Homo sapiens: one gene and its partner. The protein of the gene in region 1 purifies or fractionates together with the protein of each later gene. This does not show direct contact. Each region holds a gene or a part of one and is shown in the gene's direction. Other genes may lie near its edges.

Region 1 (3,918 bases):
CCCAGCACTTTGAGAGGCTGAGGTGGGTGGATCACTTGAGGTCAGGAGTTCGAGACCAGCCTGGTCAACATGGTGAAACCCCGTCTCTACTAAAAATACAAAAATTAGTCAGGCGTGGTGGCAGGTGCCTGTAATCCCAGCTACTTGGGAGGCTGAGGCAGGGGAATCGCTTGAACCTGGGAGGGGGGCGTTGCAGTGAGCTGAGATCGCACTACTGCACTCCAGCCTGGGCAACAGAGCAAAAAAAAAAAAAAAAGTATATGTGTGTATACATATAAAATTTACATTTATGGGGCGGGTGCAGTGGCTCACGCCTGTAATCCCAGCACTTCGGGACGCCGAGGTTGGCTGATCACTTGAGGTCAGGAGTTCGAGACCAGCCTGGCCAATGTGGTGAAACCCCATCTCAACCAAAAAATACAAGAAAAAAAAAATCAAAACAAAACAAAATACACAAAAAATGTACATTTATGATTTACTTCTTGTAAACTTTTGTTTTTAAAGTATATTTAGTATTGTTTGGTATGTTCTTTTAGATGGTCATTTTGGTAGTTTTCGGTTACTTGGTTTAGTGGTGACATCTTTATTCTCCCTTTCTTCCTTCTACCTTAAAATGTACTCTAAGAATTATTGTAACCTTTTATCCCCCTGGTTTACATCCTGATCATTAAATAAATGATTTAAAAATAGTTAACAATGGAGAGAATATTCCAGAACTGGAAATCACAGAGACAGAGTTATAGAAGTAGAATGATCAGGAAAAGTGAGTAATGGTGAAATTGGATCCATAGCTTGGGGTCAGAGTGGGGCTGGGAATGCTAGATTATTACAGGGGTCTGTCAGGATTTTCTAGGTATATTTTTGTACTTGTTTTCTAGGTGATGCCCTGTGTTTAGGGGTGTGTTATTCTGTGGAGTATTCCTGTCCTTCTTTTTATTTGGCATCGTTTGCAACAGTAGAGAGCAAAGAGTGACACAGTGCAGTTGATAAGAGCGTGGGCTTTGGAACCGGGTGGGCATGGCAGCTTCAGGCATGTTACTTTTTCTTATACTGCTTTTCTTCATTGTTCCGGTTATCTATTGCTGCGTAACAGATCACTTCAATTTTGTGGCTTAAAGGAACAACAGTCCTTCTTGTGGTTCTTCAGGTTGCCTGGATTCAACTAGGCAGGTCTTACTGGAAGTCTCTCATGCACTCAGATGGTGGCTGGAGCTGAAGTCATCTTAAAAGTTTGTTTTTTATTTTGAGATGGAGTCTCACTCTGTTGGCCAGGCTGGAATGAGTACAGTGGCACAATCTTGGCTCACTGCAACCTCTGCCTCCTGGGTTCAAGCGATTCTCCTGTCTCAGCCTCCTGAGTAGCTGGGATTTTAGGCGCACCACCACACCTGGCTAATTTTTATATTTTGAGTAGAGACGGGGTTTCACCATGTTGTTCAGGCTGGTCAAGAACTCCTGACCTCAGGTGATCCACCTGCCTTGGCCTTCCAAAATGCTGAGATTACAGGTGTGAGCCAGTGTGCCCAGCCCACATTCATCTTTAAACAGGGATGATAATACCAATCACATAGCATTGTTTCAAAGATTAAGTGAAATCATCTATATAAAGCTCATAGCACAGTGTCTGATACATGATAAATTGTGAATGAATTATTATTTGCTATTTCAGCAGATGGAAGGCAGGGATATAAAAAGGGAAAGAATGAAAACATCAGTCAGATCCTGACTTGGAAAAGTTTCCCCTTATCTAGTCTAGTTAAAGTACCACTCTTTTTTCCTGTCTGAACTTTCTTTTTTGTTTGAGATAGAGTCTGTTGCCCAGGCTGGAGTGCTGTGGTGTAGCCACAGCTCACGACAGCCTCCATCTCCTGGGCTCAGGCAATCCTCCCACCTCAGCCTCCTGAGTAGTTAGGACCACAGGCATGTGCCTCCTCGCCCAGCTAATTTTTTTTTTTTTTTGGTGGAGATGGGGTTTTGCTGTGTTGCCCAGCCCAGGCTTTTTTTTTTTTTTTTTTTTTTTGAGATAGAGTTTTGCCCTGTTGCCTAGGCTGGAGTCCAATGGCGCGATCTCGGCTCACTGCAACCTCCACCTCCCGGGTTCAAGTGATTCTTCTGCCTCAGCTTCCCAAATAGCTGGGATTACAGGTGCCTGCCAACATACCTGGCTAAGTTTTGTATTTTTAGTAGAGATCGGGTTTCACCATGCTGGCCAGGCTGGTCTCGAACTCCTGACCTCAGGCAATCTGCCCGCCTTGGCCTCCCAAAGTGCTGGGATTATATGCATGAGCCACTGTGCCCGGCTCCCCGGCTTAAGTTTTTAATTGTTTACTAGAGATGGGGGTCTCCCTATATTGCCCAGGCCGGTCTTGAACTCCTGGATTATAGGCATGAGCCACTGTGCCTGGTCCTGTCTCAACTTTTTAATGAATTATTCAAAACATACCTATAAAAAGAGAAAAGTGGCCAGGCATGGTGGCTCATGTCTGTAAACCCAGCACTTCGAGAGGCTGAGGCAAGAGATTGCTTAAATCCAGGAGTCTGAGACCAGCCTGGGCAACATGACGAGACTCTGTCTCTACTAAATTTAAAAATTGGCCAAGCATGGCAGTGCATGCCTGTGGTCTCAGGTACTCGGGAGGCTGAGGGAGGAGCATTGCTTGAACCCAGGAGTTTGAGGCTGTAGTGAGCTGGGATCACACCACTGCTCTCCAGCCTGGATGTCAAAGGAAGACCCTGTTTCAAAAAAATAAAACAAAAACCCAGAGAAGTTACACTCTGAAGACGGTAACAGTTTGCTATTGTATCAGAGAGAATTTTTCTTTTTTTTTTTGTAGGTAGTCTCACTCTGTTGCCCAGGCTGGAGTGCAGTGGTATGATCTTGGCTCGCTGCAACCTCTGCCTCCAGGGTTCAAGCAATTCTCATGCATCAGCCTCCCGAGTAGCTGGGATTTATAGGTGCAAACCACCACACCTGGTTAATTTTTGTAGTTTTAGTAAAGATGGGGTTTCACCATGTTGGCCAGGTTGGTCTCGAACTCCTGACCTCAGGTGATCTGCCCGCCTCGGCCTCCCAAAGTGCTGGGATTACAGGCGTGAGCCACTGCGTCCGGCCCAGAGAGAATTTTTAAAAGTATCTGTTGTAATTACAATGAGGTTTAAACTGTCTTTTTTTTTTTCCGCCATGGAAAGAGTCAAGTAATTTGTCTTTCTTAAATGCTGGTGTGTCCGCAGTTGGTGGGTTCTTGGTCTCACTGACTTCAAGAACTAAACCTCAGACCCTCACGGTGAGTGTTACAGTTCTTAAAAGCAGTGTGTCTGGAGTTTGTTCCTTCTGAAGTTCAGATGTGTTGAGAGTTTCTTCCTTCTGGTGGGTTCGTGGTCTCACTGGCTTCAGGAGTGAAGCTGCAGACCTTCGCGGTGAGTGTTATCGCTCTGAAGGCGGCGCATCTGGACTTGTTCATTCCTCCTGGTGGGTTCGTGGTCTTGCTGGCCTCAGGAGAGAAGCTACAGACCTTTGCAGTGAGTGTTGCAGCTCATAAAAGCAGCCTGGACCCAAAGAGTGAGTAGCAGCAAGATTTATTTTAAAGGGTGAAAGAACAAAGCTTCCACATTGTGGAAGGGGACTGGAGCATGTTGCCACTGCTGGCTTGGGCAGCCTGCTTTTATTCTCTTATCTGGCACCACCCACATCCTGCTGATTGGTCCATTTTACAGAGAGCCAATTGGTCTGTTTTACAGAGAGCTGATTGGTCCGTTTTGACAGGGTGCTGATTGGTGCGTTTACAATCCCTGAGCTAGACACAAAAGTTCTCCAAGTCCCCGTGAGATCAGCTAGACACAGAGCACTGATTGGTGCATTTGCAAACCTTGAGCTAGATACAGGGTGCTGATTGGTGTGTTTACAAACTTTGAGCTAGA
Region 2 (3,918 bases), on another chromosome or scaffold:
AATGGCCTGTAAAAACGAAACAGTGGTCCTGGTTATGTGGCTTTTGTATGAAATTTTATTTGCTAAGTATTCTATTGTATATTGAGGTAAGTAAACAGTAAATTGAAATATCTAAAATTGGAAACTGCGGAAGTCCCAACACGAAGCCAGTCAAATATTTAAAATTGTACACTGTTGCCTATGTTGCCTATCATATTGAAACTTAAAACTTAGCTGGTTTTTCTTCATATTTTTACCATGAGTATTTTTATTAGTAGTAGCAGTAGGACTTTCCATTGTATTGGCATGTCTTTCCTCCATAGAAGATAAATTTCCGGTTATTAACTACTGAATGTAATTTATATGCACATGTAGAAGTTTGAGATATACTAGGAAATGTTGCTTACTTTTGAGGTTGGCTGTTTTTATGAACCAGGGACATTGTAGTTTGAATTTGTGGGTGATATTTTTATCTGTTCTTCTCTAGGGAAGGCGATTTCAAGCAAGAAGGTATGCCACAGATAACCATGACTGAGGTGGCAATGTAATTAGGCAGTGTAATGGAAAGTATAATAAAACCAAATCATTTAGCCTTCAATTGTAGTAAAGAGGTGCAAATTAGTTCTAATAAAAAATGTCTTTAACAAAATGTGAATACGTGACTAAGATGGGAAAGTAGGTAGCAGTAATATAAATATGGAACAATGTTGACTACTAATTGGAATAGTAAAGGGAGCCATTTTACCAAATAAAATTAAAATGTAAGATTCTGCAGTCAGAAACAAAACTTTAAAAACTCCGAACAGTGGTTACCTCTGACAGCATATGGACTGGGAAGGGGCAAAAGGAATGCTTTTTGCATCTCAGCATAGTGAGACCTTGTCTCTACAAACAATAAAGCAGCCAGGAGAATCACCTGAACCTGGCAGGTGGAGGTTGTAGTGAGCTGAGATCGTGCCACTGCATTCCTGCCTGGGCGACAGAGTGAGACTCTGTCTCAAAAAAAAAAAAAAAAAAGCCAGGCATGCTGGTGCAAGTCTGTAGTTCCAGCTACTTGGGAGGCTGAGGCAGGAGGATCACTTGAGCCCAGGAGTTCAAGGCTGCAGAGAGCCATGATCTTGTCACTATATTTCAGCCTGGGCAACAGAGCGAAAACTGGTCTTAAAAAACAAAACAAAACAAAACTTTTTTTAAAGGTTTATTGCTGTTTTGTTTTTCAGCAAAACCAAAAGCTAGTCAGGCTGACGTAGCATTTGACACCTTTTATAAACCTACAGTTTATACTTCTTCCTTCTGTGAAACAATTTGTGGTTTGTTGATTGAGATAGTGAATTTTAACAAATACTTTGTAATGTGCCCTTGCTGTGTTGAGATGAATTCATATAAAATATAACCTTACACCATAAGTTTTTTTAAAAAATCAATGTACTGTTCTCTCTAATATAAAAGAAAAATAAAAGGGAAGTAATTTATAATAAAATTTATTTCAGTATTTAATGATGTGGCACAACTATGCCATAAAGCATAAGATCAAGTGTTTGCATCTATCTGTAAATAGAATCATCGTGTAATTTAGAAAGTATGTCTGCTGCCTATACAGTTGTGTGCATTGTTGACTCATGTTGTGTTGCCATTAGTGGTGTAATTTCTTCCTGAAATTGCAGACAACTCTTAGGAAAGCTCTAAACAAAGAATAATCAATACTTTCTGAGTTGGAAAAGATTTTTTAAAGTCACTTAGTAGTCCAAGCACTCATCTTATTGAATCAAGATATATTCCCTGTTTATCATAATTTCAAAGATCCTTACTTCTGTTGTGTGAATATTATTGCACATGTGATCAGTAGAGTGGGAAGTGTTACTGGGACTCCTAATTTTTTCTTCCAGGTATTGCTTATGGCTTTCAGCTGTGTGATATCTGAAGCGATACTCTTTCTCAATTATTCAAATGATTGGCCTTCATCTTTTTTTAAATGCAGCCTGCAGTAACCAATAGAATACCAGTAGTAACCAGTAGACACATTCTTCCCATCGTGAACGTGAGAGCTATATTTAAGTCTATTCAATGCCTAACTTAATGGCACAATTTTATTGTTCTGTCTAGTACAGTCGTGACTAGCTACAGTTGGCGATTGAGCAGTTGAAATGTACCTTGTGGTCTGTGGCACAGTTGCCATTTCCCGGGTAAGATGTCTGCAGTCTGTGTACTGAGGACCTGGAGCAGGAATGCTGGGCAGCTGATTTGTTTCACTGTTTTCCAACATGTAGTAATGTTCATGTTTTGAAGCCAAATTATGTGTGTTTCTTTGATTATCCTTCATTCAAGTATAGTCATCCACATAACTTTCTGAAAACAATTAATGCTGTATGTGGACAGCTTGTTCAGTTCAGATTCTCAGACACTGAAGAAGGGATTAGAAAAGTAACTGTTAATGTTATGTAAAAGAAGGAGATACAGTGTCTCAGTTTGATAACATCGGTAAAGTTCAAAGTGATAAAGCTTCTGTTACCATCGCTAGTCCTTATGATGGAGTCATTGAAAACTCTAGCATAGTCTAGATGATATTGCCTATGTGGGGAAGCCATTAGTAAACATAGAAACAGAAGCTTTAAAGGGTACTGTTAATTTGTTTTACCAAATTGATTATTGTCCACCTTTTGTCATTGGGTCTCAATTAAAAGTGACCTTTAAAAAAAAAAAAAGAAAAAATGTGCCTTGTATGACAGAACTAAATTTTAAATTTTAAAGTGTGAAAGCTCGGATTCTCAGCTGGGTACTGTGGCTCACACTCGTAATCCCGACACTTTGGGAAGCCAAAGCAGGAGGATCACTTGAGCCCAGGAGTTCAAGACCAGCCTGGGCTATAACATAGTGAGACCTCATCTCTACAAAAAAATAGTAATCATAATTAGCTGGGGTATGGTGGTGTGTGCCTGTAGTCCCAGCTACTTGGGAAGTCAAGTTGGGAAAATCACTTGAGCTTAGGAGGTTGAAGCTGCACTGCATCGAGGCATGATAATGTCACTGCACTCTAGCCTGGGTGACAGAGGGAGACCCTGTCTCAAAAAGAAAAAACTCACAGTTATTGGTCCGTTTTTATGTTTGAAACAACTTAGATATGTGGATCTACTGCAGATTTTGTGAAATGTAAATACAGATCAAATATTTCTAAGGAAAATGAGTAGTTGAATTGGGCCATGCTGTAAGTGTAGTAAACTGGATTTTAAAGACTTGGAATAAAAAAAATTTTTAAGGTAAAATAAGTTTTATTTTGACTACATGTTGAAATGATTTCTTCCCCTTGTAAATGTGGATGCTAAACTTGAATGAAAAAAAACTTCTAAGGGAAAATAAGTTTTATTTTGACTACATGTTTAAATGATTTCTCCCTCTTGTAAATGTGGATACTAAACTTGAATGAAAAAGTTTTTAAGGTAAAATAAGTTTTATTTTGATTACATGTTGAAATGATTTCTTCCCCTTGTAAATGTGAATACTAAACTTTTTTTTGTTATATCAAGGAAGTCTTCCCAAGATATTAAACATTTTAAAATTTTGTATGTCACTTGTATATCTGTTGGACGGTCCTGTGCTAAACCCATAAAAAAGCCAAAGTTGTATAAAACAGGATCTTTTCCCTTAGAATCTACTTCCCATCCCAGATGGTAGATATTTCTAAATGTTTCAACTTGTGGGCCAACAGAAAGTTTATGGCTGTTTATACCTCTGTGTTGAAGGATTTTGAGGCGAATCTGGTTTTTTGGTTAAAGTGTTGCCATTCAGTCACTTGGTCTGCTGTGAAAGGGTAGGGAAGAGATAATTGGAAGTATTCATCTTTCTTGAGCTAGTGCAAGCTATATTCTGCCTCTGTCAGAAACTTGTTCTCCAACTCCAGAGGCTTCTTACCTCAGTCCCCTATAGTGCTGTAGTGAATGCTTG

The links.
Region 2: the proteins of MOK (region 1) and NAA50 purify together in Homo sapiens (affinity purification with mass spectrometry; 3 studies listed by BioGRID and IntAct, with this or other methods). This does not show direct contact.

What each region holds. Positions count from the first base shown.
Region 1 is NC_000014.9:102,298,426-102,302,343, reverse strand, and holds part of MOK (MAPK/MAK/MRK overlapping kinase), read left to right. Parts: intron 1-3,918. UniProt on the Homo sapiens protein: Able to phosphorylate several exogenous substrates and to undergo autophosphorylation. Negatively regulates cilium length in a cAMP and mTORC1 signaling-dependent manner.
Region 2 is NC_000003.12:113,739,504-113,743,421, reverse strand, and holds part of NAA50 (N-alpha-acetyltransferase 50), read left to right. Parts: intron 1-3,918. UniProt on the Homo sapiens protein: N-alpha-acetyltransferase that acetylates the N-terminus of proteins that retain their initiating methionine. Has a broad substrate specificity: able to acetylate the initiator methionine of most peptides, except for those with a proline in second position.